3 linked regions of the Homo sapiens genome follow. The protein of the gene in region 1 binds, or shares a complex with, the protein of each later gene. Each region holds a gene or a part of one and is shown in the gene's direction. Other genes may lie near its edges. The genes, in order: TIMM50, TIMM23 and TIMM21.

Region 1 (8,456 bases):
GGGGGCCCCAGGGTTTGGGGAAAGGGGTCTGGACTTGGCAGAAGTCAGAAGGAAAGGTGGTCCCTGGGCTGAGGCCTGGGGACCTGGGCATCTGGGAGGAGGCTCTGTCCACCTTGCGCTGACCCTCTCCTCCAACTGTCCCCCTACCCCAGGAGGAGCAGCAGCGCCTGGCCGAGCTCTCCAAGTCCAACAAGCAGAACCTCTTCCTTGGCTCCCTCACCAGCCGCTTGTGGCCTCGCTCCAAACAGCCCTGAACTCTGGGCCTCCTCAAACTCAGTGCCTGGGTCCAGGGCCCCAGTGCTTCCAGACCAAGACTTGGGCCACCACTTGTCCAATAAAGTACATCCCAGACGCCACACCTGCTGTGTCCCGAGAGTCTCCAGATGGGGGCATCAGGGTGAGGTCCGGGACTCTTGGGTCATCGTCCCACAGTGGCTGATCGGCTGCCAAGCACAGTGGGGGTGCTTTGTTGGATCAGAGCAGATTTTTCACCCTGGTCTCGGAATCTAAAAACCCTCGCTGTGTCTTCCTGTGTGTTGCGTGATCTGTGAAAAATACATCTCCCTCTGACCACAGACTCCTCATCTGTGGAGAAGGGAAGAGAGGATGGCACTTGGCTTTAAAGACAGGTAGCTGCCAGGCTACTGTGGAGAGAATGTGTTATGGGCCTAGTGGGCCTCTGGTGGACCAGAGATTACCCCTCTCAACAGGCCAGCTGCTGGTTGGCTCCAGCCAGTGTGGCCCTGGGGTAAAGGGGGCCTGGAGTTGCTTGACACGCCAGTTGTTCAAAAGAAGCAAGAACTTGGGAATATTTTTTTTTTTTTTTTGAGACAGGGTCTCACTGTTGCCCAGGCTGGAGTGCATTGATGTGATCTTAGCTTACAACAGCCTTGACCTCCCGGCTCAAGTGATCTCCAAGTGACCCTCCTGCCTCAGCCTCCTGAGTACCCTCCTGGGGACTACAGGTGCGTGCTACCATACCCAGCTAATTTAAACAAATTTTTTTTTTGTAGAGATGGGGTCTTGGTGCCCAAGCTGGTCTCAAACTCCTAGTCTTAAGCAATCTTCCTGCTTTGGCCTCCCAAAGCGCTAGGATTCCAGGTGTGAGCTACTGTGCCCAGCTAAAATAGGGATTTTTATATTAAATCTCCCTATTTTAAAATGTTGGCTCCTAGCGGGGCGCAGTGGCTCACGCCTGTAATCCCAGCACTTTGGGAGGCTGAGGTGGGTGGATCACCTGAGGTCAGGAGTTCAAGACCAGCCTCAACATGGAGAAACCCCATCTCTACTAAAAATACAAAATTAGCTGGGCGTGGTGGAGCATGCCTGTGATCCCAGCTACTCAGGAGGCTGAGGCAGGAGAATTGCTTGAACCTGGGAGGCGGAGGTTGTGGTGAGCCGAGATCGCACCATTGCACTCCAGCCTGGGCAACAGCAGCGAAACTCCATCTCAAAAAATAAAATAAAATAAAAATAAAATGTTGGCTTCTAACTAAAACAGGCAGATATGTAGCAGTGTTCTCCACTGGAACTTTCTGTGATGTTTGGTTCATGTTCTAGGTCTGTACTGTCCAGTACAGTAGCCAGTGGCCACATAAACCTTTGTTTTTTTTTTTTGAGACGGAGTTTCGCTCTTATTGCCCAGGCTGGAGTGCAATGGCACGACGTCGGCTCACCACATCCTCCGCCTCCCGGGTTCAAGCAATGCTCCCGCCTCAACCTCCCAAGTAGCTGAGATTACAGGCGCACACCACCACGCCCGGCTAATTTTTGTATTTTTTTAGTAGAGACAGGGTTTCACCATGTTGGTTAGGCTGGTCTCGAACTCCTGACCTCGTGATCCGCCCGCCTCGGCCTCCCAAAGTGCTGGGATTGCAGGCATGAGCCACCATGCCTGGCCCCACATAAAGTTTCTGAGCACTTGAAATGTGGCTAGTGTGACTGAGAAACTGAATTTTTAATTTTGTTTGAGACTGGGCACAGTGGCTCACGCCTGTAATCCTGACACTTTGGGAGGCCGAAGCAGGAGGATTGCTTGAATCCAGGAGTACGAGACCACCCTGGGCAACATGGTGAAATCCTGCCTCTAAAAAAAAAACAAAGTAACGAGCCCAGCGAGGTTATGCATACCTGTAGTCCCAGCTACGTGAGAGGCTGAGGTGGGAGGAATCCCTTGAGCCAAGGAGGTCGTGCGTGGCTGTGATGATCTGTGATCGTGCCGCTAAATTCTAGCCTGGGCAACAGAGCGAGACCCTGTCTCAAAAAAAAAAAAAAAAAAAAAAAAACCTTAAGATTTTTTTTTGGAGTCAGGGTCTCGCTGTGTCGCCCAGGCTGGAGCACAGTGGTGTAACTATAGCTCACTGCAGTGTTGAACTTCTGGGCTCAAACAATCTTCCTGCCTTGGCCTCCCCAAATGCTGAGATTATAGGAGTGAGCCACTCTGCCCAACTACTTTTAATTAAATAGCCACATGTGTCTCCTGTATTGACAGTACCACTGTGTATTAAGAGTATGAGTCCCAGATTGTGTAAGTTCAAATCCAAGCTCTACCACTTCTCGGCTGGCTTGTGATCCTGTGCAAGTTACTTTACCTCTCAGTGCCTCGGTTTCTACATTTATAAAATAATAACTGGGCAGGCACAGTGGCTCATGGCTGTCATCCCAACACTTCAGGAGGCCGAGGTGGGAGGATCGCCTGAGGCCAGGAGTTGGAGAGCAGCCTGGGCAACATGGGAAGAGCCTGTCTCTTGCGGGGGGGGGAGAAGAAAGTTCTTGTCTCAGGCTAGCTTTGGGGACCAAATGAAGCACTCCCATGTAGGCACTCAAATGGAACTATGTAAACCTTAGGCAAGGCACCTCTGCCTCAGTTTCCTCATCTCTAAAATGGGGTGATGGTAGTATGTTAGCAGAGTGGTTGTGAGGAGTGAACGGGACAGTCCGTATGTGGGTTATATGTATATATTCCCAGGTGCTTGCTGTTACCAGGCCATATGGGTTATTCACAGATTGAAATATCTTAGCTGGGCACGGTGGCTCACCCCTATAATCCCAGCACTTTGGGAGACCGAGGCGGGTGGATCACCTGAGGTCAGGAGTTCGAGACCAGCCTGGCCAACATGGTGAAACCCTGTCTCTACTAAAAAAATACAAATAAATTAGCTGGGCATGGTGGTGGGTGCCTGTAATCCCAGCTACTTGGGAGGCTGAGGCAGGAGAATCGATTAAACCCAGGAGGCAGAGGTTGCAGTGAGCTGAGATCACACCATTGCACTCCAGCCTGGGCGACAGAGTAAGGCTCTGTCTCCAAAAAAAAAAAAAAAAAAAAACAAAAAAAAAACCAGTTTGACTTTATCTCCCTCGCCCTGCCTCCATCCCCACATTGCCCCCCACTATCCCAGTCTCTCCTACTCCAGCCTTCATCTAGTGCTAACTGATTAAATATTCTAAGATGACCTTCTCTGGTGTGTGTGATGATAATTAAAAGGCATTCAGAACTGTGTGGACCAGACTGAACCTCTGCACTCTAGATTTTTTTTTTTTTGAAGCCTCTACAAAGGATAATTAAAATTTACACCATGACTCTTTGTCCTGGGGTGCACTGTCTGTAAGCCGGTGGAGTTATTTCCCAAAATCCTTGGTCCTTCCCAGCTTGAGGAAGTCTGCAGGACTGAGGGAGGGGACCTGTGCTTTTTTTTTTGTTTTTTTGAGATGGAGTCTCTGTTGCCCAGGCTGGAGTGCAGTGGGGCGATCTCGGCTCACTGCACCCTGCACCTCCTGGGTTCAAGTGATTCTCCTGCCTCAGGCTCCCAAGTAGCTGGGATTACAGGCGTGTGCCACTGTCAGGCCTCTGAGCCCAAGCCAAGCCATCGCATCCCCTGTGCCTTGCACATATACACCCAGATGGCCTGAAGTAACTGAAGAATCACAAAAGAAGTGAAAAGGCCCTGCCCCGCCTTAACTGATGACATTCCACCATTGTGATTTGTTCCTGCCCCACCTTAACTGAGTGATTAACCCTGCAAATTTCCTTCTCCTGGCTCAGAAGCACCCCCACTGAGCACCTTGCGACCCCCCACTCCTGCCCGCCCTTTGACTGTAATTTTCCATTACCTTCCCAAATACTATAAAACAGCCCCACCCCTATCTCCCTTCGCTGACTCTTTTCGGACTCAGCCCACCTGCACCCAGGTGAAATAAACAGCTTTATTGCTCACACAAAGCCTGTTTGGTGGTCTCTTCACACGGACGCGCATGAAAGCCACCACACTCAGTTAATTTTTGTATTTTTAGTAGAGACAGTTTCACCATGTTGGCCAGGCTGGTCTCGAACTCCTGACCTGAGGCGATCTGCCCGCCTCAGACTTCCAAAGTATGGGGATTACAGGTGTGAGCCACTGTGCCCGGCCTAATTTTTGTATTTTTAGTAGAGATGGGGTTTCACCCCGTTGGTCAGGCTGGTCTTGAACTTCTGACCTCATGATCCACCTGCCTCGGCCTCCCAAAGTGCTGGGATTACAGGCGTGAGCCACCGCGCCTGGCTTTTTGTTTTGTTTTGAGACAGTGTCTCACTCTTGCTCACACTGGAGTGCAGTGGCGCTGTCACCACTCACTGCAGCCTCGACCTCCTGGGCCCTCGTGATCCTCCCACCTCAGCCTCCCAAGTAACTGAGACTACAGGCACATGCCAACATGCCAAGCTAATTTTTTGCATTTTTTTTTTTTAAGAGAGATGAGGTTTCAGGCCGGGCACGGTGGCTCACAGCTGTCATCCCAGCACTTTGGGAGGCCAAGGTGGGCGAATCACGAGGCCAGGAGTTCAAGACCAGCCTGGCCAACTTGGTGAAACCCCGCCTCTACTAAAAATACCAAAGAGTGGCTGGGCGTAGTGGTGGGCGCCTGTAATCCCAGTCACTCGGAGGCTGAGGCAGGAGAATCGCTTGAACCCAGGAGGCGGAGGTTGCAGTGAGCCGAGATCGCAACACTGCACTCCAGCCCAGGTGACAGAGTGAGACTCTGTCTCAAAAAAACCAAAAAACCAAAGCTCTGCTGTCATGAGCTGATGTTCAGTGTTCTCATGGAGGAGACAAACAATGATCAGATAACTTCCTAGGGTAATAAATGCATAAAGAAAAAGTATAGCAAGGAGCAGCAGTGATCTGGGGACTCAGAGGACTGGTTTAGACCTGATGGGATGGTCGGGAGGCCTCTTGGGAAGGCGCATCTGAGCAGAGATGGGATGAAGTGAGGAGGGAAGCCCTGGGATAGCTGAGTGTGCCTGAGGCACACTCAGGGCCTCATGCTTACCGCAAGGCCTCCGCAATTGCTGTTCGCTCTGCCAGAAGTGTTTTTCCCTAGAGACTACACAACTTACTCCTTTAGGCCTTTGCTTAAATGTGACCTTAGCATGGCCTATTTTTTTTTTTTTTTTTTGAGACAGTCTTGCTCTGTTGTCCAGGCTGGAGTACAGTGGTGTGATCTTGGCTTACTGCAACCTCCACCTCCAAGATTCAAGCGATTCTCCTGCCTCAGCCTCCCCAGTAGCTGGGACTACAGGCGCCCACCACTATGCCCGGCTAAGTTTTGTATTTTTAGTAGAGATGGGGTTTCATCATGTTGGCCAGGCTGGTCTCGAACTCCTGACCTCAAGTGATCTGCCCGCCTCAGCCTCCCAAAGTACTGGGATTACAGGTGTGAGCCACTGTGCCTGGCCAGCATGGCCTTCTATGGTGACTACAGTCAACATATAAAGAAAAGTTGTGAATAGCCAGAAAGATGCTCAGAAATCCCTTAAAGTACACGACACGACACACGCACACACACCACAAGAAAATCCACAAGAAATGCCATCGTGCCTGCCACAAACCTTCACAAAGGCTGGCAATTTTTATAATCTTTAAAATTTTAGAGCCAGGCTCAGTGGCTCACGCCTGTAATTCCAGCACTTTAGGAGGCTGAGACAGGAGCATCACTCGAGGCCAGGAGTTCAAGACCAGCCTAGGTAACATAGTGAGACTCTATCTCTAGGAAAAAAAAAAAAACAAACAGGCCAGGCGTGGTGGTGGGCGCCCATAATCCTAGCTAAATGGGAGGCTGAGGCAGGAGAATCGCTTGAACCCGGGAGGCGGAGATTGCAGTGAGCCGAGATTGAGCCACTGCACTGCAGCCTGGGTGACAGAGCGAGACTCCGTCTCAAAAAAACAAAACAAAACAAAAACAAAAAAACCCCAAACAAAACAAAACAAAACAAAAACAAACATTCTGAGATATCTCAGACCTGGAATCTGTTCCCCCCAATGATCATCCAGGGCAGGAATTTGCTTCCTTCCATAGCTGGTTGCCCAAATTCTGTTAAAATATATTCTGTGATGGGAAGCCTATTCCCTCACCTAACCCAGTATTAGACCTAATTTGCCTCCAGGTGACTTTGGTTTACAAGGTCTGGCTTTACTCCTTGGGGCCACATAACTTGTCTGACCTCGGGGGGATGTGGAAGGAGGGTCTCAAATGTCAGCCTTAGAAGCTTACATATTTAGAAGGCACTGGGGAGCTACAGAAAAGTCTAATGCAAGTGAAGGAAATGGTCTGATTTGTGCTTAGATAAACCCCACAGGGCCAGGCATGGAGGCTCATGCCTGTAATCTCAGCACTTTGGAAGGCCGAGGTGGGAGGATCGCTTTTGCCCAGGAGTTCAGCCTGGGCAACATAGGGAGACCCCATCTCTACCAAAAATAATAAATTAGCCAGGTGTGGTGGCTCATGCTTGTAATCCTAGCTACTTGGGAGGCTGAGGTGGGAGGATCATTTAAGCCCGGGAAGTCGAGGCTGCAGTAAGCTAGGATAATGCCACTGCACCGCAGCCTGGGCAACAGAGACCCCATCTCAAAAAAATAAAGACCTCATAGGCCAGAATGGTCAAGGCTGAGGGAGGCACAGACAGAGGGGTCGGGCAGAATAAAAGAATCATAGGGGGATGTGGGAGCTCAGAGGAGGTGCTTGATGCTTCTGGGGAGTGTTAGGTAGTGCTGCCTGGAGGAGGTGAAGTCTGAATGGTGAAAAAGGAATTAAAGAAGGGAGTGGAGCCGGGCACGTTGGGTCACGCCTGTAATCCCAGCACTTTGGGAGGCCGAGGTGGGCGGATCACGAGGTCAGGAGTTGAAGACCAGCCTGGCCAAGATGGTGAAACCCTGTCTCTACTAAAAATACAAAAATTAGCGAGGCATGGTGGTGCGCACCTGTAATCCCAGCTACTCGGGAGGCTGAGGCAGGAGAATCGCTTGAAACTGGAAGGCGGAGGTTGCAGTGAGTGGAGATGGAGCCGCTGCACTCCAGCTTGGGCAAAGAATAAAACTCCATCTCAAACAATAATAATAAATTAAAAAAAAATAAGGGAGTGGAAAAGACAAATACAGGGAAAAGGAGCCTGGGATGTTCTGCCCAATCTGACCCATGGCGCTGCCTTGCTCAAACGCCACTGTTGTCAGAATTAAGAGAAGAATCTTTAGGCTGTTTTTTTCTCCTCCTCCTCCTCCTTTTCTTTTTTTTTGTAGAAAAGTGTGTCTTGCTGTGTTGCCCAGGCTGGTCTCAAATTCCTGGCCTCAAGCAGTCCCCTGCCTCAGCCTCGGAAAGTACTGGGATTATAGGCGTGAGCCGCTGTGCCCAGCCTGGTCTTCTTTCATTCATTAAAAAATTAACTGCGCAGGGATTAGTGGCTCATGCTTGTAATCCCAGCAATTTGGGAAGCCGAGGTGGGTGGACCACTTGAAGGTCAGGAGTTCGAGACCAGCCTGGCCAACATGGTGAAACCCCGTCTCTACTAAAAATATAAAAAATTAGCCGAGTGTGTTGGTGGGTGCCTGTAATCCCAGCTACTCTGGAGGCTGAGGCAGCAGAATCGCTTGAACCCGGGAGGTGGAGGTTGCAGTGAGCCAAGATCGCACCACTGCACTCCAGCCTGGGCAACAAGAGCAAAACTTCTTCTTCTGAAAAAAACAACAACAGCAACAACAAAAAACAGAGCGCCTACTGTATGCCTGGCTCTGCTGGGCTAGGCTTCGTTGGTTACTATATCTTACTTCTCTGGAAAAAGACATATAAATTGAACCTGTATTTTCCCCTATAATTATTAGCCTCTAAGCACTAAAGTTTTTTACTTTGGGGGGGAAAAAAAAGAAGTTACCCCAGCTCAAGGGTTTTGCCCCATGCCTGGCAGGGAGCAATTATGACCAGAGGGGCTGGGACATCTGCTCCTAATTGGCTTTTCCTGCTGAGGTCCTGGAATACTAAAGGGTTTCTGAAGGGCCCGGGATGTCCCCCCCCCCAGTTCTTCTGGGGTGGGGGAGCGGGTCCCTGTATGTGAAGACGGAATTTCCTGCCCATTTGCTCCTCACACCTTCCGGAGGCCAAACGGGCAGCCCAGCTGCGGCCCGAAGGGGGAGGGGCTCGGCCGCCCGGCAGAT
Region 2 (11,835 bases), on another chromosome or scaffold:
GCATGAGGGGAGCTGGAATCTATTTTTTTTTTTTCCAAAAGTGATTCTGATGATCCACTAGATTGAACAGTTACTTGCCAAGAACATAAACTAGTCCTTGTGAGAGTAGTAAAAGTGAGGAGAGTCATTACAGACTTCACAATAATAGGGGAAGTTAAAAGTGACTTTAAGCTTTGAGCTTGAGAGACTTGAAAAGTGATGACAGCCTTAAGTAGAAATATGGAATACAAGAGAATTGTGTTTAGGGAAGAAATACGATTAGGTCAATTCTGCCTATACTAAATTTGAGATGCCAAAGAAGTAACTAGATAGAAAACCATATCACTACTTCTGGCTTCCTAAGGTTTCCTTCCCAACACACCAGCAGACAGTAGCAAAAGTAGAATTGATAGCTCAGGAGAGGGAGATTAAATATAAATAAATACAAGCCACATTTTATATAATCATTAGAAATAAGTATGCTGTCAAAATTTAACATACTGAATAGGGATTAAATGTACATCATATTTTAGTATCAGAAATAAAATCTTAAACATTCGCAAATGTTTAAGATTTGAGATACTCACTAAATTGCAATGTAAGAATCTTAGCATCCTAAGTCACAGGATCTTTCTTATTTACCTACCTCTCCTCAAACACCATATGGAGCAAAACAGATGCAGGCCAAATATACGAAAATCAATGGTTTATTTTTCATTGAAATAATGGCATAATCGAAATACATTTCAGATGGGGAGAATTTTATACCAGAAAAATATTCAATTGCTATATAATCTTTACCTTCCACAAAATACTTATAATCCAGCTAGTAAAAATCTTTGATTAATGTTTCAAAAATAGTTTCTATCACAAAAAAGTAATCACGCATAGTGATTTCTTATTGTTAAACACCATTACTTCCACGATTTTATTTAGCATTTCTGCAGCAGATCAGGCTTCAGAGAAAAAATGAGCTTCAGTCAGAGGGAGTAAGAGGATAAACCATTTGATTCTGAAATTTTTTCTACAGTTCTGTATTCTCTATTTATTTTCTTTATATCAAATACAGCAAGTATAGTTTAGAAAATCCTCAAATTGGGCCGGGCACAGTGGCTTACGCCTGTAATCCCAACACTTTGGGAGGCCGAGGCAGGCAGATCACAAGGTCAGGAGATTGGCTAACACGGTGAAACCCCGTCTCTACTAAAGATACAAAAAATTAGCCAGACGTGGTGGCGGGCGCCTGTAGTCCCAGCTACTCGGGAGGCTGAGGCAGGAGAATGGCGTGAACCCGGGAGGTGGAGCTTGCAGTGAGCGGAGATCGCGCCACTGCACTCCAGCCTGGGCGACAGTGTGAGACTCCGTCTCAAAAACTAAAAAAAAAATCCTCAAATTACAAACCAGTAATATGCCAAAACATTCATTTTTTGAGTTGGTTTAGAAGTTAAAACATCTTTTTTCCATAAATGTAAGGATTAATGTTAAGATGCAATGACTAGGTTCCTATAACACACACGAAGCATGTACTCCCGTGATAAGTCTAAAGAACCTAAAGACCGCACACATCATTTCATGAAAAACCAGGAGTGTTCCAGTGATGGCAAAGAAGAAGAGAGCTCTCTCCCGTAGCCCTGACCCTGAGAATGTGTTCTCTCTCCAGTTTCAGGCTTCCTGAAGCCTGGGGAAGGGATGAAGGAGGAAAAGCAAGAGGTAAGGAACCAGTATCTTCTGCTAATAAAACATTGATCAGTCCTTCTTAGGGCCTCAGAGAAAGGACTGCTTACTGCTCTTTGCAATATCACTTCGTTAAGCCTTTATTTCCTCACCCAGAAAATGAAGCTAACAACACCTACTTCTAAGGGTTATGTGGATCAATTACAAAGCAAAAATTAGAGAAAATATTGTGTTCAGCCTCACAAAGCACTCAATATGTTATCTCTCGACATTTCCACCCAGTCTTTTTTTTTTCCACTGAGATCAATAATTCTCCAACTTTGACTTCACACCATTTACATTTACTCTCATCAGCAACATTATTCAGTACCCAGTATATTTTAATCAGCAAGTCATTCAATTAATAGCTATAGATACAGCCAAAAGGCACAAAATGCAATAAAATTCACCTGCATGTCAAAGGAACATTCCACTTTCACAAAAAGTCTATAGCAACACATCTGGATAAACCTGCGTCATCACAATGTGAATAACATGCTGAGTTCTGCCAATATGCAGGTTTGCAGATTTTTTTTTTCTTTTTTCAGAAGTGGGGTCTCGCTATGTTGCTCAGGCTGGACGGGAACTCCCGGGCTCAAGTGATCCTCTTGCCTTAGCCTCCCAAGTAGCTGGGACTACAGGTGCATGCCCAGCAAAATTAGCGATTTCAGTCAATACAAGAAATATGTCCAGGAAGATAAAGAATATAAAATTTAAAGATACTGAATAAATATCCATTTCGCTACCCCGCCTACTTGTCCTAAGATAATTATATATAAAAATTTAAATACCAAGTTCCTAAAGGAATCCCAAAAATTCAAACAATGGGCTTTTGATACAAATATAGTCTTTGAACATTCTGTTAATTGGTGTCCTGTGCCAGGTATACAGAAAACATTTAAACATGCGAAATACAGCCCCAAGTATTCATTTGGTACCTCTTCTGCAGAAATCTTAATTAAGATCCAACCAGTGAGGACTGACTGCCCTCACCCCTATTTGCAACTAACTCCTCCTCCTTTACATGCAAATAAGGTTAATGAAACCACAAACTATCCAGTCACAGAAGCTGAAGTACACCTGAACATATACCTGAAGTTCACCTTCAGTTCCCTCTCCCCTATACCAAGTTCTCTGAAATCTACATCCTAAATTTTAAATCCATCCCTTCCTCATACTCTTTAAACACATCGCTTACTAGACAACTGCCATTTGTTTCTTGCAACTAGTCTCCCTGTCTACAGCCTTGACTATCCAGTGTTCTACAAACTACAAATGACCAGTCATTTTTCAATGAAATAACACAGACAATATAAGAATGCATCACACATAGAAAGATTAAGTATTATTTCATGAAACATTTATTTCAGTTATAAATATGGCTTATTTGCCAGGTTACATATATTTCTTACTCTGTGTACTGGATAAAATTTATGCTGTGGGTTGCAGTTAGGAAAGTCCAAAAGCCACTTTTCTAAAATATTAACCAAATGGTATTCCCACGCTTAAAAGCTTTTTAGTGGTTTCTCCATTAACCACAGAATAAGGTTGAAATTCCTTAAAATGGAATTTGAGTTTCTTCATAAGCTCCTGTCTGCCACCCAGCCTCATCAGACACTCCTCTGTCATCTTATGCTCCAGTCTTACCAACTTTTGCATGTCTTATTCCCTCTGCGTGTATAATTCTTTCTCCTCTTGATTTATACAGCAAATCTTCCTCATCCTTCAAGGCCTAGTGCAAGTCTACTTGGTACTGTCCCTAAGTTCGAAGACATCTAAGTGTACACTCTTCACCAGAGAACTGCCCGAGCTCTGCCCAGCCTCTTACACTGTTAATGAATGCATCCTTTTTGAAATGCTCTCCTTTGTCTGACACAACACGAGCCAGGCTTTCCTCCCACCTCTACAGCCGCTTCTCTTCAGTCTACTCTTAAACTTTGGTGTTCCTAAGGCTTCTGCCCTAGGTCACCTTTACTTTCTCTACATGTTTATGTTATCTATGCCCATAGCATCCATTATAATGTTTATGCCATGAACTCCCCAATCTACTTCTCCAGCACAGAAATATTTCTTCTCAAGTATCCCATTCTTTCATGAATCCATCCCCTTCCCTATTGCCAGCATCCAGGCCTAAGCTACAATTATTTCCAACCTAGATTAACTCCTTAACTGAGTCTTGATGCTCCACTTGAGTTCCTTTTCAATCCATTCTTTATTTTCCACACACCAGCCACACAGACTTTTCAACAAATAAATAAGTCTAATCAAGTCACTCCCCTACTAAAAACCCTTGAGTAGCTTATCAATGCCCTTAGAGTTCAAAATCCTTAGCAATGTCTACATATCCAATTTGATCTGACTTTTCTGTACCACCCTGCAGCCTCATCTCTCACACTCTCTTGCGTTCACTCTATATATCAATTGCACTCCTGTTTTTGTTTTGTTTTGTTTTGTTTTGTTTGAGGCGGAGTTTCGCTCTTGTTGCCCAGGCTGGAGTGCAATGGTGCCCTCTCGGCTCACTGCAACCTCCGCCTCCCGGATGCCAGTGATTCTCCTGCCTCACCTGCCTCAGCCTCCGGAGTAGCTGGGATTACAGTTGCCCGCCACCACGCTAGGCTAATTTTTTGTGTTTTTAGCAGAGACGGGGTTTCACCATATTGGTAAGGCTGGTCTTGAGCTCCTGACCTCAGGTGATCCACCCGCCCCGGCCTTCCAAAGCGCAGGGATTACAGGCAAAACCACCGCGCCCGGCCTCCATTGCACTCCTGAAACACTTCTTACTTCCTCTTCATCTAACTCCTACTCATTCTACAGTCCTCAGAATAAGCATCTCATCTTCTGGAGGACTATTTTCGATTCCATAAATTCAGTTAGGTAAAACAATCTGTCTTTCATCTATCAGAACATCCATTACCTTTTATTATATTAACTTTTGCTATCGTCTATCTCTCCAGATAGATTTTAAGGTATGAAGGCAGAGGCCAAGTTTCTCTCATTCAACACTGTATACCAGGGACGGGTACAATGCCAGCTTAGACTAATAGCTCTGCACCCTGGGACCCAGAATCTGCACAAGTGAAGTTGTTTTCTTCCTATCTAGAGGCTGAAGCGCCCTACTGTTTTACATACACAATTAGATCTCCTTGACGACTAAGGCAATTTCTCAATCAAACCTGAAGAAGCAAACAGGTGGTGGAGTCTCCTGCCATTTTCCGCCCTGTGAGTGACTGCTCATCAGAGTTTCTCACATCAATCGCACTGGGAAAAATGCGGCCCCATTCACCCACTAGTGGCTTTGGTAGCTCAGCAAGTGGACCTCAGAGTGATGATGCACACAAGACCAGAAAGGAGTGACTGGAGTCCCTGAGACCAGAAGGTTCGGGCCGAGGCGAAGGACAAAGATTTTTATTTTCCCACGTACCAAGCGAGGTGGCGCTGCCTCTGTGCTGTCCCGCCTGCCCTGGGACGCAGGCTGGCGAGGACGGTGGGACCCTGAACTGCACGTGAGCGTCCTTGGGGTCGAGGACGCGCCTCTGCCTGCTCGGAAAGCTCCGGGCGTCCGAAGCAGCCGGCGAAGTTGTAGCGGCGCCCCAGCGGGGTCGCTTGGTGCAGGGTTCACAGCCGGGGCCCGCATTCATGCTGGGACCAGCAGCGCACTGTCCCCGGGCCGGCCCCGGGCGGAGAGCCTCATTTCACTAACCTGAGAGAGATGGACTGCGCGTCCTTCTCAGCGCCTGCCTGCACCATTCCCTCTCTGCCGCTGCCTGCTTCTGCAATTGCTGATCCGCCGGCCTCCCAAGTCAGGCCGTAAACACTCGCCTGCTTTCTCTCTTCCACTGGCACCCCACCTGCCTCAATGCGCCGCTTTGATTCGGGATTCGTTCACTTTCCCACCACCGGAAAGCTGCCGTCAGGCGCTTCCAGCTTCCGGGGCGCACATTGCCGCAAAGCGGAAGTGTGGCGCTTAACGGGAACCGGCGCCCGGAAGGTCAGCGTGTGAAGTAGGCGCTGGCAACGCGGGGTTACCCGCTGTTATTGAGGAGTAACGGCCCAGCGGACCACCCAGGCTTGAGGCAGCGGCGGGAACCACTCGGTTTGCTGCGATACCATGGAAGGAGGCGGGGGAAGCGGCAACAAAACCACAGGGGGATTGGCCGGCTTTTTCGGAGCCGGCGGAGCAGGTTACTCGCACGCGGATTTGGCTGGCGTCCCGCGTAAGTATGGGGCCTAGCTTGCGATTATTTCTGACTGGTTTTTGCGTCTACACTAAGTTGCGCGTCCCATGTTTTATGTTGTTGTTTTTTTTTTCCTTGCTGGCATTTACAAGCTTAAGTACCAGTGGTGGGGTTAGTGTATCTGCATGGCTGCTCTTTCAAGATAGAAAGGCCTAAAAAAGGGCCACGGATCTCCTGGGGAAGCTGTCCGTGATTGACCTGGACTCGCGAGATGATGCATGTTTTCTTAGGTTTATATCCAAGCCTCCTACGTTTTGTGTGTGGTGGGCCGTGTGATTGACCCTTGATTAAGAGTAGAGCCGAGCTTTGGGAGTAAATGTATTCCAAATAGCAAGCCCGTAGTTAACTTTTTAGTACACAGCGACATATTCTGAGCCTCCAAGTAGCCGTCAGGGCAGAATATTCAGTAATATTGTTTGTAAGTGAGAAATAAATGACTTGGGACAGGCTAGGAAACCTTCTTTAGGAGCTAGGAAGTAAGCTGAACTTTAAAGGTGATATATAGACATGAAGAAAGAAGCCAGGTAAGAATTATAGAAACGGAAATAGGCAACATCAAGGTATACAGAGGCATAAATATCTTGCCTTTGCCTCTCCTCGGTCTTGTGAAAATGTTTTCCAGAACTTTGGTACTTTGTAACTGTGGTTGTTCAACTAGATAAATACAACTTGGACCTAAAGATAGGCAGTTGGTCGTGGATAAAGCCTTTACGAAAGTACTTTCTTTTTAGAGAATCCTTGTAATATTTCTCTAGGTATTTTATACTAAGGAACAACAACAACGAAATATGTTCAGACTGTAGTGCAAAAAAATATAAAAGACCTTTCATTTCCCTGGTGTCACCTTTGTCAAAAAACTGAATCTACAACACATGGTGTTTTGTTTCGTTTTTTTGTTTGTTTGTTTTTAGAGTCAGGACCTCGTTCTGTCACCCATATTGGGGTGCGGTGGCATGATTATAGTTCACTGAAGCCTCGCACTCCTGAGCTCAAACAATCCTCCCCTCTAAGCCTCCTAAGTAGCTGGGACTCTAGGTACGTACCACCACGCCTGGCTAATTTTTTTTTTTTTTTGACTTATTGTGGAGATGGGGTCTCCCTGTGTTGTCCAAGCTGGTCTCAAACTCTCGAACTCAGGCCATCCTCCTGTCTCGGCCTCCCAAAATGCTGGGATTCCTAGGCCTGAGCTACTACTTTACCTGTTTAGAACACAGTTTCATATTAATCTTAGTATCTCTGAGTTTCAGAGCACAAAGGGCATATACACTTCCTTAATGTGACAATATTGTTAAATTAATTTGATTAAGATTTGAAGGTAAATTGGGGGACCAGGGAATGAACACCATTTACTGAGCTTTTACAGTGTGCTAGCTACTTTTCTGGGGGCAGGACTATAGTGGTTTTTGTGGGGGTTTTTTTTGTTTTTTTTTGAAAAGAGGACTCTTGCGCTCACAGAGCTTACATAATACTGAGGTAAACCAACAAACATAAATTAAAACATTGCCGTTAGTGATAAGTGCTGTAAAGGGAATAAAGCAGAGTCTTGAGATTGTGATGGAAGCAGGATGCCATTTTAGAGCCGGTTAGGGAAAACATCTCAAGGGAGTTGACATTTGAGCTGTGACCCAAATACAGTACAAATGCTTGGGAGGCAAGTATCCAGGAAAATAGCTAGTGCAAATGTCCTGAAACAAAACAAATTTGGCAGGTTTAAGGAACAGCTCTTAGGCCAGTCTGTCTTCGTAGTTACAAGGGAGTTGGATCCATTGAAGTTTGTGAAATCAGAGAGGTAGGGAATGACAGCTAATGTAGGATTTTGTAAGTTATGGTAAGGAGTTTCGATTTTCTTAAGACAAATCACTGTAGTTGCTATGTAGACAGTGAATTGAAGGGGTAAGAGAAAGCAAGGAGTTAGGAAATTGTTGCTGTGAGATATGATGGTTGGACTAGGATGGTAGCAATAGAGAAGATAAGTAACACAATTCAAAATAGATATTAAAAATAGAACAAGCAGGACTCCTAATTGATGAAAAGATAGAGGCATGGGTGATGCATAGGTTTGTAAATAACTGCTGAGATACAGAAGGATCCAAAGATGATAGGTTTTACTGTTTTCAATGTTAGTGAATTCAGGTCTGGCCCTCTCAAAGTTTGTGTTTTCTTTTGCACAGACCCACATACCTGTGGTAATGACCCAAGGATTCTCAACCTTGCCACAGTAAATCAATCGTTAATAGTAATATGTGAAGGAACTGCCTTGAAATAGTTAGATACAACATGTACACAGTCAGAAAACCCAACCCAACCACTGTTTTTCCCATGGAATTGATTAGTCTTTTTTCAGTCTTATTTTGTAATTTACATAGTCACCAAGCATTCTTGGAGTAAAGTGAAAGAAATTAGCTTTGTAAATGGCCTGGACTACACTTCCTGTAAGTTCAAAAATCAGATCTATGACACTGCAATTATCTTATTGGTGTAAAAGCCTGAGCCACCAGTGGAAGACCTGGTTTGGGATTGAGGGTCTCAGGATGAGTCAGCCCCCAAACTGACAGATAGGGAGGATAAAATGGGAAAAAATTTTCCGCCTTCAGTGAGCCTATAAAAATTGCAAACACATGTAACAGTCAGGAGCTGGATTAACTCTAACTGGATTAACTTAAAGAATTTTGTTGCAATGTGACATTTTGTTTTCTCTCTAGTAACTGGTATGAACCCTCTGTCTCCTTATTTAAATGTGGATCCACGATACCTCGTGCAGGTAAGATTAAGATTTTACTAGTTTGGTGCATTATTTTACCATTTTAAAAAAAACGCCAAGTGCTATGCTGACTTGAACTATGACATACACTTTTGGAGGCAGTAAGTCTCTGGTCTCCATTCACCCTTTTTTCCTCACAAACACCAGGAGCTTGGCCTGCATCTCTCTGAAACCAGTTAACTCCCTTCAAAAGCTTATTTTTTAAAACCAGAGCAGAATTAATTTTTGAAAGCACCCCAATAAAAGTATTGGGATGCCTAGTTACAAAGTGTGTGGGGTTTTTTGTTTGTTTGTTTGTTTGTTTTTGAGCCAGAGTTTTGCTTTTGTCCTCCAGGCTGGAGTGCAGTAGCGCGATCTCTGCTCACTGCAACCTCAGCCTCCCAAATTCAGGCCATCCTCCTGCCTCAGCCTCCCAAGTAGCTGGGACTACAGGCGCCCACCACCACGCCTGGCTAATTCTTGTGTTTTCAATAGAGACGGGGTTTCACCATGTTGGCCAGGCTCCCAAAGTGCTGGGATTACAGGCAAAGTGTGTTTTAAAGCTCAGTTTACAATATCAGGGTTTTTTTGACTAAGCATCAAAAGTTTCAAAGAGTATCTTTTTGAATCCAAGATATATTAGGAAATATATCTTGGGTATATTAGAAAAGCAAGGTTGATTTAACATCTGAAAATTAATGTATTGTGCCATATCAATTTATAATAAAGCAATCAAGGAAAGAATATAGTACAAAGACCACATGCTTATCTCAATAGATTCACAAAAATCATTTGACAACATCCAACACCCCCTTTAATGATTATAAAAACAAACTAGGCTGGGCGCAGTGATTCACACCTGTAATCCCAGCACTCTGGGAAGCTGAGGTGGGCAGATCACTTGAGGCCAGGAGTTTGAGACCAGCCTGGCCAACATAGCAAAACGCTGTTTCTACTAAAAATACAAAAATTAGCCAGGCGTGGTGGTGCCTACCTGTAATCCCAGCTGCTTGAGAGGCTGAGGCACGAGAATCGCTTGAACCCTGGAGACAAAGGTTGCAGTGAGCTGAGAACACCCCACTACACTCCAGCCTGGGCAACAGAGTAAGACCCTATCTCTAAATAAATAAATAAAACTAGACATAAAAGGGACTTCAGCCTGTTAAATGCCATCTACAGAATATCCAAAGCTAACATAATTTAATGGTGAAAGACTGAATGCCTTCTCCCTAAGATCAGGAACAAAATAAGTATATTTACTCTCATTTATATTCAGCATTGTCTGGCCAGGGCAATTAGTCAAGTACGTTAAATGGCATTCAAGTTGAGAAAGAAGTTAAACTATCTGTTTACAAATGACATGATCTTATCTATAGAAAATCACAAGGGAAATCACAAAAATCTGTTAAAACTAATGATCGAGTTCAGCAAGTTGCAGAATACAAGTTCAATATACATAAATCAAATATATTTCTAGACAGTTGCAATGAACACTACAAAAATGAAATTACAAAAAACAGTTGATTACCAATAACATCAAAAAGCAAATACTTAGAAATAAATGGACCAGGTGCAAAACATATTCTGAAAACTATAAAACATTATTGAAATTAAGTGGAAAGACACATGCTATGATCCTGAAAATTTTAATATTAAAATGGCAGTGCTCACCAAATTAACCAACAGATTTAGTGCAGTGCCTGTCAAAATCCCAGCTGGCTTTTTTGCAGAAATTGACAAGCTTTTATCCTAAAATTCATATGGAAATTCAGGGGACATAGAATGGCCAATGACCTTGAGAAAATAGATTGGAGGACTTGAACTTGCCAATTTCAAAACTTTCTACAGAGCCACATCATGATAGTAACATAAGAATAAATCCATAGTTAATGAAATACAGAGTCCAGAAGAAAGACCTTACAATATATGCAGTCACTTGCTTTTCAGCAAGGATGCCAAGATAGTTAAGTCAGGGGAGACGTTAGGACAACTGGAATCCATATGCATAAGAATGAAGTTGAACCCTAACCCTGCACCATATGCAAAATGTTACCACCAAATGGATTAAAGACTTAAATGTAAACTAAAGCAGTCAAACTCTTAGAAGAAATCATGGGCACAAGTAGTTGTGACTTTGGATTAGACTGTGATTTCTTGGATGTGACACCAAAAGCACAAGTGGTAAAAAGAAAGTTGATAAATTGTATTTAATCAGAATTTAAAAATTTTGTGGTTTAGACAATACCAACAAGAATGGAGGCCAGGTGCAGTGGCTCATACCTGTAATCCCAGCACTTTGGGAGGCTGAGGTGGGTAGATCACCTGAGGTCAGGAGTTCGAGACCAGCCTGGCCAACATGGTGAAACCCCATCTCTACTAAAAAACAAAAATTAGCCAGGCGTGGTGCTGGGCGCCTGTAATCCCAGCTACTTGGGAGGCTGAGGCAGGAGAATCACTTGAACCTGGGAGGCAGAGGTTGCGGTGAGCCAAGATCGCGCCACCCGCACTTCAGCCTGGGCAACAGAGTAAGACTCGGTCTCAAAAAAAAAATAAAAAAATAAATAAAGAATGGAAAAAGTCCTGGCGCAGTGGCTCGTGCCTATACTCCCAACACTTTTAAGAGGCTGAGGCGGGAGGATCACTTGAGCCCAGGAGTTTGAGACCTGCCTGGCCAACATAAGAAGATCCCATCTCTCCAAAAAAATACAAAAATTAGCCGGGTGTGGTGGTGTGCACCTGTAGTCCCAGCTACTAGGGAGGCTGAGGTGGGAGGATCACTTGAGTCCAGCAGGTCAAGTCTCAGCATAATCAAACCACTTAACTCCAGCCTGGGTGACAGAGAGAGACTTTGTCTCAAAAGGAAAAAAATTGGGAAAAGACAATCCACAGACTGAGAGAAAATATTTGCATATTATGTATCTGATAAGGAATTTATATCTAGAATATTTAATTTTTTTAACTCTTGAAACATTAATAAAAAATAATTACAAAATGGGCAAAGGATTTGAGTAGACATTTCTCTATGAAGATATACAGATGTCTAATAATGACATGAAAGCTGGTCAGTAACATTAATTAGAGAAATAAAACCACAATGAGATACCTCTTTACACCCACGGGGATCACTATAATCAAAAAGAAAATAATGAGTATTGTTGAGGATGTAGA
Region 3 (12,846 bases), on another chromosome or scaffold:
GAGTCTTTTTCAGAGGTTCCTAAAGTAAATTTTATTAAGATCAGTCCTCAAAACCAGTAGTACTCAGCAGCACCTTGAGGGAATCTGAAACACCAGAAAATCATACAGCTCACAGCCTCCATGTCTAGGCAGCAGCACACCCGGAGAGCCATGAATGGTTACACTATTTCTCTAGGAAAGGTTTGGAAGCTTCTGCTTTAAGCAACATACAACACACAGGTATTGGATATTGGCGCACCTCCTTCCTGATGTGCTATTTAAGAAGTGGCTAAATCCTAGAGAGTACATTATGTATACGCTCAGTTCACCAACATCATTGCTTTGAATGTGTACTTTGTGCACTGACAGTTTAACCACCCTCAGTTTTTCACACCAGGCCAATTCCCCAGATATAGTTGAAACAACATTCATAAAGGAGGGCAACAATTGGGAGCAAAAAAAGAGATGCCTTAAGAACTTGGAAGAAAAAGTAATGAACCAACCCCCCTGAAAGCTGAAGTATGAAATCCACACACAACTGGTCTTAACAGAGGATGGCCCTCAACTCTGAGCACAACCTATTAGATGACACAAGTGGTGAAAAAGGAGCCCTTGCCCTAGGCATCAGCTGGCCAGGTGACAGTGTAGCCTGGAGCCTACCGCAAGACAGCATCATGATATGCAGCACGCACTCAAATCACCCACTGGCACCTGGCTGCCCTGCTTCCCAGGCACAAGTCTCCACATGCTTCCAAGCAGCTACAGAGTAAATTCCTCTTCCCTTTGTGAATTTTTCTCTCTAGAAAAAAGCACAGTAGCTGGTACAGGGTAGGCCCTCCACAAATATTAGTGATCAGCTGCTCCACTGGCATCTCAACAAAGAAGTTGCATAAGGTAAACTTTTCCAGATCCTGTAAGAGTAAAAATGCACCGAGGAAAAAAAAATGCTGGCTCCACATGCCTTTCCATCCCAGCTTCAGTAAAAGGTGCTTAATATACTTTTGGTCTTATATGACTTTCTAGCCAATGGTTTTCAATCTGTGCTCTGCAGGGCAGGAAGACAGGGAGAAAGGACAGGAAGAAATGCTAATTGGGACATTTTTGCAATACCCTCTCCTCCTTTAATCAGATAATTCTACCTGTTATATATTTTTGTACTTCTGTTAGAAATTTTGTTTAAACACAGATTTCCACAGGAGAAAAGCTTAGGCTCCATTAACATGGTCCTAACATAGTAATCATAAGTAAAATATCATTTCCTAATTGCATTCGTCTCCTAAGACTACCTTCACAAACTGGGTGACTCAGAACAACAGAAATGTATTATGTCTCAGTAGCCAGATGTCCAAAACCCAAGTTGTCAACAGGGCCGTGCTCCCTCTGAAGGCTCTAGAGAGGATCATTCCTTTTTCTGGTGGTTGCCAGAAATCCTTGGTGTCCCTTAGTTTGTGTCAGCATAACTCTAATCTCTGCCCCCATCTTCACAGAGCAATCTTCCCTCTAGGCATATCTGTCTCTGTGCCTCTTCTTATAAGGATATCATTCATATTGCACTTAGGACCCTCCCTCATCCAGTATGACCTCATCTTAACTAATTATACCTGCAGAGACCCTATATCTAAAGAAAGTCACATCCTGGTGTTCCAGAAGGACATAAATAACTTTAGAAGGTATAATACACTTTGTTTACTGTCAATAGTCAACACAGTAAACAAATTTGTAATACATTCTAAAATTATTTAAAAGCATGACTTATTTTTAAATGGTTATTATTGTTGTAAAGTCTGTATTGACTTATATTACATATTCAAAGATAAAATATCTACAATTGATAAAGGATTCTAACACTTAAGCTTCAAATAAAGGGAATTTCTATCATTCCTTCATCAAACAATAACAATTCCTATCAGGAGCTCCAAACCTGTAACCCTTAAGCCTATGGGAGTGTGGGGGTTGGCTGTACCTAGAATCGGAGTCCACACATACCCTAAGCATCATATGAATAATTCTATATATACTTTAAACATAAATATTATTGTAGTTCATCAAATATAATTTTATTTAAGATATTAAATAAATACCTTACTGAATCAGTAACAGCTTTTTGTCATTGTTTATTTCCTCAATAAGAAGCCAGAAAAATAAAAACTGTTACCTTAGGCCTTTCCAAGAGAACCAAAGAAAAGTAAATTCATCTGATGGATCAATTTTAATCTAGCAATTGGCAAATACCAAATAAATGATGATGATTCATGCTGGCTATGTTACAAAGAAACAGGCATCCTCATTTACTGCCCGTAAGACAAGATACAGTGGTACAAACGTTATGGAAAGCCAAATCTGATATTGGAATCCAGGATCCTTAAAAAGCACATATGCTCTTTTAAGCCAGGAATTCCACTTCTAGAAATGTGCACAGATAGTTCACTCAAGAATGTCCATCTCAGAGTTGTCTGCACTGGGGGAAAAAAATACTAAAAACGGTATAGAGATTGGTTAAATTGCATGGTCTCCATAGAGTTAACAATGTCTAGTCAATTAAAATATAGATTTTTCAACCCAGGTTAAGTGTTTGAATTAGAAACAGGTCCCTGATGGCCTCCAGGTGTCTATATGGCTTGCTCCCTCACTTTCTTCAGCCATTTACTACAATGTCACCATCTCACTGAGACCTTCCTTGGCTGTTATATTTAAACTGCAATCCAGTCCCCTCTGCCACACACACATGCACTTTGTGTCCTTTCTCTGTTTCTCTCCTTAGCACACATCACCATCCAACACTATACATTTAACCTGCCTGTCTTGCTTACTATCGCTGGAATGACATGGGCAGTTATACTGCATGGGTTTGTTCACTGCTGATCGTTCAGCACCCACAATATGCCTGGCATGCGAGCAGCATTCAATAAATATCGCTGAATCACTAACAGTATAACTGAGAAAGCAGGTTATATCAGTATATACTACTAGGTTGGTGCTAAAGTAATTGCGGCTTTTGCCATTACTTTCAGTAACAAAAACCACAATTACTTTTGCACCAACCTAATACATAAACTTATTTTTCTATTTCTCTAAGAGGAAAAGTAAATATATGCATACAAAGAAAAGAGATCTAGAGACACCAAGGTTTAACAGTTAACAGATCTGATTCATAGGATTACAAAATCTGTTGGTGAAGGTCTTTTTAAATGGGGACGATTTAGGGGGCATAACTCCATGTATGTTCTAATTTTTCTTAGCATATTGAATCTGTAATAAGTTGGGGGGTGGGGGTGTTGTTTTAATTTCAAACCTAAGAGTCACATGCAAAAGAAGGCCAGGGAATCACAGTTTGACAGCACAATCCTTGAGACTGGAGCAGTGGTTCTCAAAGGCATTCCTAGCAACAGAACTCTTGCAAAGAAACTGAAACCAGGTCCCCCGAAATCTGGGGGTACAGTCTGCAGCAAACTCAAAATTTCTTAGGAGTCTCCCAATTGATCTTAAAAATTAAAGCAAATACTGCATTCTACTAAATAATCTGTCTTTGTCCTATCATAAAAATGTATTATATTATTTACCAGTTAAATTATTTAACATTTTCCCCAAAGCCTTTGTGTTGATTTTGCAGACAAAGAAGATGCTCTATGTGTTCCCCACCCACTACAACTACTCGTTTGAGAAGCACAGCGCCAGGGTGCTTAGATGTTTCAAGAATACATACTGGCTTAATCCACCACCAAGTTCTTACTGAAAACCTTAACTTGTGTGTCCCGAATTTATGAAAGATTACTGTGAAAACACCAGTGAAATAAAGTCACCTGTTTTGTAAACATATATGCATATAAAATATATGTAAATAAAATGATCTTAGTAAGTTCCTCAAAGTCATGCTGTAACTCTCCCCACTCAAAGATAGTTTTAAATAACGATTAAGCAAATAAATCCTGTTTGGTACTAGTTATTTTTTTTAAGTACCAAATGCTTTTCCCTAATCTGAAACCCTAATTCAGTAACGAATGGATATGCCTCTATCTTTGGCTAAAACATTTAACAGGGCTTAGTTAGTTCAATTCTACAAATACTTCTTAATCATATACTCTGCACAAGGTAATGTGTAAGTGCTTTAAGACATTTCATCCTTTATTTAATTGGAATATGAAGGCTATTTTATTACAAACATGTTTTCACACTTTTAAAACGTCAAAGCTTATTTCTTGCTGTTTTGTTTTTTCACAATTAAAATGGATCTCATAGAGTCCCTCATTTCAGTTTACAAGGCTAAGGCTCTAACAAGGCAACTAAAGAAACTTAAGGTCCCAAGCTAGAAGCAAAGACAGTCTCTGAGACGCCCATCTCCTTAATGTCCTGTCAGAGCTCTCTGTACCATGTCTTACATGAGACCATACATCTTATCAGTGTACCTTTTAACACTATTGGAAACACATTTCTATTTATCCATAAAATAAACCAACTGCACTTTTTTTTTTTTTTTTTTTTTGCGACAGAGTCTGGCTCTGTCGCCCAGGCTGGAGTGCAGTGGCGCTATCTCGGCTCACTGCAAGCTCCGCCTCCTGGGTTCACGCCATTCTCCTGCCTCAGCCTCCTGAGTACCTGAGCCTACAGGCGCCCGCCACCATGCCGGGCTAATTTTTTTGTATTTTTAGTAGAGACGGGGTTTCACAGTGTTAGCCAGGATGGTCTCGATCTCCTCACCTCCAGATCTGCCCGCCTCCGCCTCCCAAAGTGCTGGGATCACAGGCGTGAGCCACTGCACCCGGCCCCAATTGCACATTTTTAAGGTCCACATAATTAACAAATCAGCAAGTTCTATTTATGTTTTTATGCGAATCTATACGTCTACAAGGTTAAGTGTAGACATACACTGATACATTTAGCAAGATAAATTTAGTTTGAAAACACTTTTTTTCAAGTGACAGGTTTTTGTCTGATAGCTTTCAATAAGTCCAATATTTTAAAAACCTAATGACTGTGCTTCATTTTAAATATCTGGCAAATCAAATAAATTACAGCAGGTACAAATTAAGCCAACTTAATACGCTTTCTGCTACACTTCTTACAGTTTGTGATATTTATACATATTCACATTTTGTGTTAAAAGGGAACACTGATTCCTTAACAACATCTAATTTTCCACAGCGATATATTAAAATAACCACCTGCTTTGACCATAGTCAATCATTCTATTTTTAGCAGCGGACTTTTCTTTACCAAAAATAATGCATACATTTCCAAATCAGCTTGAAATGCAGGTTCCCATGCCAGGCATAATGACAGGCCCTCTAATTATATCAATCCAGGAAGTTCACTCAACTTACAAAGGATAAAAGATTCATCATATAAAAATCATTCTGCTTCCCCCTAATAGAGCACTATGTAAAGACTAATTTTAGTAATAGCAGCAAATTGATTAAAAGTTCAAGTTTCCTATTTAAATTCCTGCTTTTTCTCCTACATAAAAGAATTTTTGCAGGCATTGTCACCATTCTATTTGTGACAAGGCTTGTGGTATGTCTAGCATTATAGGTATTCAATTAAGAACTATTATCACAGCACTAAGCAACAGGGCTGGGCTTCTGAAAACAGGTAAGTGGAAGTAATGGAGACCTAGAGAGGACACAGGACATAGTTCTGGAGATTCAGGGGGAAAAAACAAGTAGTTCAACTAGTATGTAATAGACTCCCTTTGTGTGCTTAAACATAGACCATTGGTTTATTAGAAGGCAAAATATGCATGACTTTCCCTATTTATAAATCAAGGAGTCTTACAAGCAGAAAGATAATCCTCAAGAATGTAAACCATTCTTGGCATTATCCCTCCATCTGTAAACTAACTGCAGTGATGGGTACACAGCTAGGGAACAGCTCACGATATAATGAGAGGGATTTCATAAGGTACCATTATGCATGCTGATACTTCTGATGCACTGGCTCATTTTACTTCTTCACGCTGAAGATGCTTCTGGAAAGCAGATGAGCAAGACCTGGCAATGTAGATGGCAACTTAGCCTTGACGTTGGAGGTGCAGAAAGTGCTGCCCCCCACCCGCCAGACCAACCTGCCTGCCCGAGGTATCTGCTTGGGGGATGAGGGTGTCAACTGATAAGGTTTTGATGAACAGACTCTACTTCCCTAAGTTGTAAGGTCATGAAAAACACGAAGGGAGATTCTTGGTTACAGAAGAGCGAAAATACGAAGGCAGGGGCGGAGCACACGTGAATTTAGGGCACGCATCCCGGAGAAACGACCTCTTGGACCTGCACCTGTCCTGGCAGGTGCGCGCATCCCCGGCCACAGGCGCCGCAAGAAAAAATATTTCCCCGAGAGGCTACTCTATTTGTGTCATAACTTAGGGTACCCCACGTTGCAGGGTAGAAAGGATTTCCTCCGGTCGTTCTTCCATACCCTTCTCACGTTGAAGACGGCCACGGGCCTTGCGCCAAGCTGGACGAATAAAATACACGGTGAAGAGAGCGGGGCCGCGCAGTGACGGGCTTCCCGCCAGGGGACCCCACCCGCAGGCCCTACAGTCACCTGCACCCAAAGGCCCTGGCGCGCCCCCGGGCCGCGCCACCGCCCCTGCTGGGCCCGCGCAGCGTCTGGAGGCCGAGCCAGTGCTGCTGCAAGATCCGACCGCGTCCAGTCGCCATAGAGACAAGGAGTTCACCACAGGACCGCGCCAGGGCTGAAACGAAGAGTGCACGCACCGCCCCCACGCCCGCACGTCGCCACACCCCTTATGCGCATGCGCGCGTGAGCAAAAGTAACGGTATGCCCACCCTTGCGCAGACGGCACCGCGCCAGACACCCGCTCACAGAGCGGGCTTCTAGAAACTTCCGGGCCTCGGCTTCCTTACCCACCCCTAACATTCTGCCGCCTAGGGCGCCAAGCCAAGTTCGCGGCTTAACCATTTAGGAAACCGGTGCCTGCTTTGCAGCGGCCTCGTTCATCCCCACTTGCTGACTCTTTATTGTCCAGTTTTTCTGAAAACACAGTAAAACGCAAAAACTAAATCATTTGCCCACGCGGAATTGGCAAGACCACAGTCCAAGGGGGTATTTCCCACTGTGCACAGTCCTCTCTATAAGGATCAGGAAAACACGTAGATTGTAACTGCTAATTTGGCTTTTGCAAGTCCCGCCTGAACCACGTAGGGTGGGTGGTACCAATTCCCCCACCAACACCCCACTTTCCGCCGCTCCAGGGACGCGCAGCGTCTGCGCCGACGCTGGGCGCGGAGGCGTCTGGGGGCGCGGGAAGGACCTGCGCCGTGCTCTGGCCGCCTTGAATTGTGGGAGATGTAGTCTCTTTTGCGCGCCTCTTTGCCGTATCCCAGTTAAGAGCGAGGTTTTCAAACTACTATTCCCAGGAAGACGGGGGTTTCCCAGGTGACTTTGCGAAGGCATGGCGGGGACACTGTGAATGTCAGCCCAGAAGGTGATCAGAGCCTGTTAATTAAAATGGAAAGAAGACAGAAGGGAAGGTAGACATCAGGTTCTCCCTGGAGACTTTTCGTTTTCATTTACGCTGCGGAAACTGACGTTTTTGCCTAACACCCCATGTAATGTAAACGTATAGGCTTGAGTACGTGTCCGGCCGCATGTGTAGTGAACCCTAAAGCTTTCCTAATTGTAGTTAGCATCGTCCCTAAGCGGAACGATTTTCCGTGAACATGATTTGTACTTTTCTACGAGCCGTACAGTATACGGAGAAGCTGCACAGGTCCTCGGCAAAGCGATTGCTTTTGCCATACATCGTGCTTAACAAAGCGTGCTTGAAGACTGAGCCCAGTTTGAGATGTGGGCTTCAATATCAAAAGAAAACGCTGCGACCTAGATGTATTCTTGGAGTCACCCAGAAAACCATCTGGACGCAGGGACCGAGCCCCCGAAAAGCAAAGGAGGATGGCAGCAAACAAGTGTCTGTGCACAGGAGTCAGAGAGGGGGAACCGCCGTCCCAACATCACAAAAAGGTAAAAAGGAGTACTTTAATGATTGGGCTTTCAACAGACATGACAAGAGCTGCCAATGCCCTTTTATACCAAGTTCACTGCTAAAGGTGAAAAAGCAATTCACATGAATTTTTAAAAACCGTTTAAACATAATTTAGAACTAGAACATATAGATCTACAGTTTTCTTCACAGATTGGAACTCAGATGTGAAAGTTGATCTTGAATTTGATATAACTTTTTTTCATTATGTTTGGGAAATTTTTCTCAAGTTATATTGGCTCTGTTACATATAATAAAGAGTAATTGGATAGGATAAAAAGAGAGAGAGAGAGATTATTGACTCATAACTGGTAGGGAAAACTTTCACATGTTACCTGCAGTAATAGAAAAACATAAAATAGGGAGGATGGAATGTAAGTTGTCAGGGAAAGTCAGAGATGTATTCACAGATATTTTAAGATTTTTTTTTAATGTCTTCATTTCGCATGTGATTTGTAGGAAAAAAAAAGACAAAGCAATTTAGACCGCCATGATTATACCACACGAAGATGACTATTTTTAACATTTTGCACTTTCATACACATACCTTTTAATAATTTTTAACCCAAAAAATTGGATCATACCAATTGTTTTAGAGTCTGCTGACTATGCCAAAAACCTAGCTTTTCATTCATACTAGTTCAGCACGAAGGAACAACCTGTATGCAGAGGTGAAAGGCATAGAAGTGGCAAACAGCATGTGCATCAGGTCATCTGGCTCAGGCAACAGTGCTCATGCTTGCACTGCACACCAGGCCTGCTTAGGGACCCCTTCCCTCATCTGCACCCCATTCAGACGTGACAGTCCTTGTGGCTGAGTGAATTGATGGGAGCAACATTCCCAAATATGGAATATGCTGCGTCCAGAATTCAAACAGGCCTATGAAGCATTGTGGTAGGAGGTATAGGGTACAATTGTCTTTTACTTGGGAGGGCATGTCTTGGCACGCCCCAGTGTAGCCCCACGAGGTCGGCTCATGTGTTGATGAGCCTCTGCATCTTTGTTGGACCCACCTCTCACACTTGCAGCTTCTCTGACCAAGCCTTCTAACACACTTGCCACTTGTTACTTATGGGCTCTAACATGATGGCATAAATATAGTAGACAAATGTGATATTCTCCTGAATGTCCAGAACAGCATTATTCAAATAAAACTTTCTGCATAGAAATGTCCTATATCTGTGCTGTCCATTTGGGTAGTTCCTGGCCACTTGTAGCTATTTTGAGCACTTGAAATGTTGCTAAAACTTGTGACTGAAGAACTGAATTGATTTAATTTTAATTAATTTAAAATTGAACTGAAATAGCCATGAGTGGCAAGTGGCTACTGTATTAGACAGCCCAGGTCCAGAAGGTTTCAGTCCCTTAAGACTGTTATGATAGAGGGTGAGAGAATTAGCAAATCCTGGGCAGGATCATAAACATACACTGTTATTATCTGTTTCATGTTACTACAGACTACTGCTGCTGCTTCTGAATAGAAGGCGTTCTTCAAAGCAATGGCCAATACCATGAGATTGTGTTAATGCATTCCCCTGTAAAGTTACCATTTGTGGTATTACATGTGTACCCCGGCTGCCACTTGGTTGAGTTTGCAGTTAACCACTGTCATTCTCCAGCACCTATTTGTGTTTTGTAAAGGAAGACTGGTAAATTACAAGGGACCGTGATGGGGATCGCCATGCCTGTATCTAAGGTCTCTAAGAATACTCTGCCATTCCCCATAGATGTGATATCATTTTTAATTTCCTATCTTGGTCACCGAAAGGGCAGCTTCAGGGGCTTCCATTTGACTTTTCCCACTGCGATGGCTCTTAACCCACTTCCAAAGGAACTAAAGTGGGAGTTATTGTTGCCAGTTACTCAGTACATCCCCTTGATTTATACATTTGGAAATCACAGAAATTATTGCCAGGTAAGTCCCTGGACCCACCTGTGAGCTTCTTACATCCGGTGATGGAGGGCGGTCAGGGGGTCATCATGACTCTTTGGGTCCTTGGGTATCACTGTCAGCACAGACTATGTCCAAGTTGATAACTGTAGGTCCTTTTGGTGAAGGACGGGGGGAGTCAGTTACATACGCTTTCCTTCAGTAAATGCGTTCCAGGTCTGAAAACTGGTTCAGGTCCAGAAACTGGGGCAATGTTCAGGACTTTGCATTAGAGCAGCTGCCTTCAGCCTCAGGAATCATCTGTAGTTAATTTCTCATGACTGTGTAATTCAGAAGTAGCCTTGTCCGCTGCCCTTGTGTCTTCCCTTTGGAAACACTGTGTTCTAGTCATCAACTCTGTTGCTTTCTGTAGGTCAGACACTCCCGACTGCCACTCCAGCCTTGCCATTAGTTATGATGGTTGCACCCACCTTGGCTTCTGTTTAACACCCCAGCCTGGTCTCTGCTTCATAATTCTTTCATCTCCATTTCTGTCAGGGCATCCTGCTCTATAAAGATGTAACTGTGGCTTCCTTGTGGCTTTGGTACACAGTGTCCTCCTGTCCCTCCTAAGAACATAGTCAGCTGGTGGGTTTTCGGGCTTTATATCTTATATCTATGGTAGCATCCCCATTCTTGGAGGCTGTTGAGCCTTTCGTCCAGTTTGCCATGGCTGTTCTGTCACTTTTACTTAATGTGGACCATCACTGTCTCGAAGTTTCCAGGAGCAGACCTAGCCAGCTGCATATCAGTTCCCAGGGTGCTTGCCTGGTTGCTAAATTCATCACAGGAGCGTGCCCCATGCTGATCAACTCTCAGCTGGTTTTGTGTTCTGTGCCCTTGACACACCACCCTTAAGAAGCAGTGGTGTCTATGTTCCCCCCCCCCCCGGGGGGACCTCCAGCTCCTTCCGAGTATTGTTCTTCTCACCCTTCTCATGCCCAGTCGTGTTGTAACTTGGCCAGGAGGGGAGGTGGAGAGCCCTCCTGAGAGCAGCACGTATCTTGCTAGGCAGAAACCCCCACCCACCCCTCGCCCAGTTTCCAAGGTGGAGGAAGTGCCAACCTTTACCAGACACTGAGCTGCTGCTTCAGGGCTAGAGGGGTCAGGAGAATTGGGATTCAAGATTTTTTACAACATTGACCTCAAGGGCCCCCTACCCAGCTTTAGGTTGCCTTTCCTCCCAAATCAGGACCCTGACCTTGGTGTGGGAGGTCTCATGGGCTTGAAATGCCAAACTCCCTGAATCCCTTCCGCCCCAGACCTCACCCACGCATTTTCTATCCTCTGGGTGCAATTTGAGTCTTGTTCTGCCGGGGAGGAGGCTCCTGCCCTTGGCACTCACCTTCACTGGTGATTAGTTACACACTTCATCTCACCATCCCTCTCCATGGCCCCAGCCACAGCCGTCTGATATAAGTCCTTAAAATTGCTGATTCCTCCTAAACTCCCAGAATAACACATCAGCCAGTACATTCCCTTCCGCCAGCATTCCATCCCAGGTCCCCATTGGTGAGAGCTGCATCAGCTGCACTACAGCTCTATGACAGGTGCTGTCAGTACCCCCCTACCACCAGGGACAGGGTCCTCATTGCCAGCCAGTGGCCGGCAAGCCAGCTCCAAAATCCAAATTGAGAGCTGCTTACCACTCCTGGTAGCACCCGTTGTAGGTTGGCTTCCCAGGGAAGTGGGATTTGCGTAAGGTTTATCAGGGAGTGCTCTCAGAATACGTCTTGAGGGATGAGGGAAGCAGGACTGGGCAGAGGGAGAGGCCGAAGTGCATTTGCAGTTGGGGCCTCAGCTGCTGCTCTGGGGACTTCTGGAGCTGAGCTGGCCAGTCACTGTCCTACCTAATATGGGGGCTGAGTCTTATGCTTCTGCATCAACCAGGCATTGAATATGGGCTGGTCCAGGGAAGTGCCGTGACCTAAGTGAGGAAGCTCTCTTATGATGGAATGCCCAGAGAGGAGCTCAGCTGACAACTGTCCGCTACCAGTGCTCCCTGCAGCTGGGAGCCCCATACCACAGCACCCACTATAGGAGGGGTAGAGAATTGTGGAAGCAAATAAATGGCATGAGGGTTTTTTGCATACAAGTATTAGGTCTGATAGGGTTCAGAAAGTTAGACAGTGAGCAGCTTCCATTGGAGACAGCTATAAAGTAACAAACAGAAATTTTTCAAGTGTGTAGAATATGGAGAATATTTAGCACAGGGCTTTATATATAACAGATATACAGGAGCTGTTGTTTATCAAATAAATGGAAAAGACCTGTCAGATACCCTAAGCAAGGTAGGAATGAATTGTTGGAAGGGACAGTCAGAAGTCCAGGGTGTTGGGGCCAATGACCCGGTTTGGGTAACAAGGACAAATAAGGATACTTACTAGAACTAGTTAGTTGTTATTGTATTCTCAACCTGGGAGTTGATACATAACTGGCAGGTAATATTTATTGAAATGTATTTTGTGACACTGAGAGTGGAATGAGATGTCGTCATTGTAGGCCCCAACTCCTGAACCTTGGAAGGGAAATTGGATTTGTGACAATTGTTTGAGTCAGTCCCATGAATTACACAGATTTTGGCAGATGAGGTCTTTTTATTATTTGAATAATGTCTTCTAAGTTGGGAACCTTGCTGAAAACTTGAAGGATTGTGATACGCTAAAGACTACTTTTAAACAAGCGTTGTATTAGCTAAATACTTCTTTTAAACAATGTTGTTTATAAACATAATAGAAGCTTTTTATACAGAAGAGAAAATAACAGCAACATCTATTAAAATTTTCTTCCAAAAGTTTTTTTCTTAAAAATTTTTTAAAGATTTATATTTCAGAAGTCTGAATGGCTAATGTGGTGAATAAATTAGTCTATAAACATAATGCCAGGAGGTGACTCACTTTCTCAGCATCAGTGAAAAGCATAGTCGTAATTGTAATGTTAAGG

What was found.
Region 2: TIMM50 (region 1) and TIMM23 share a complex: the UniProt entries of both Homo sapiens proteins name them as parts of the TIM23 complex.
Region 3: TIMM50 (region 1) and TIMM21 share a complex: the UniProt entries of both Homo sapiens proteins name them as parts of the TIM23 complex.

Annotation. Positions count from the first base shown.
Region 1 is NC_000019.10:39,489,567-39,498,022, forward strand, and holds the end of TIMM50 (mitochondrial import inner membrane translocase subunit TIM50), read left to right. Parts: intron 1-152; coding exon 153-254; 3' UTR 255-4,213; downstream 4,214-8,456. UniProt on the Homo sapiens protein: Essential component of the TIM23 complex, a complex that mediates the translocation of transit peptide-containing proteins across the mitochondrial inner membrane. Has some phosphatase activity in vitro; however such activity may not be relevant in vivo.
Region 2 is NC_000010.11:45,966,825-45,978,659, forward strand, and holds the start of TIMM23 (mitochondrial import inner membrane translocase subunit Tim23), read left to right. Parts: upstream 1-5,664; 5' UTR 5,665-5,800; coding exon 5,801-5,906; intron 5,907-8,629; coding exon 8,630-8,688; intron 8,689-11,835. UniProt on the Homo sapiens protein: Essential component of the TIM23 complex, a complex that mediates the translocation of transit peptide-containing proteins across the mitochondrial inner membrane.
Region 3 is NC_000018.10:74,141,157-74,154,002, forward strand, and holds the start of TIMM21 (mitochondrial import inner membrane translocase subunit Tim21 precursor), read left to right. Parts: upstream 1-7,366; 5' UTR 7,367-7,652; coding exon 7,653-7,953; intron 7,954-12,846. Other genes in the region: FBXO15 (F-box only protein 15), read right to left, coding at 6,514-6,629. UniProt on the Homo sapiens protein: Participates in the translocation of transit peptide-containing proteins across the mitochondrial inner membrane.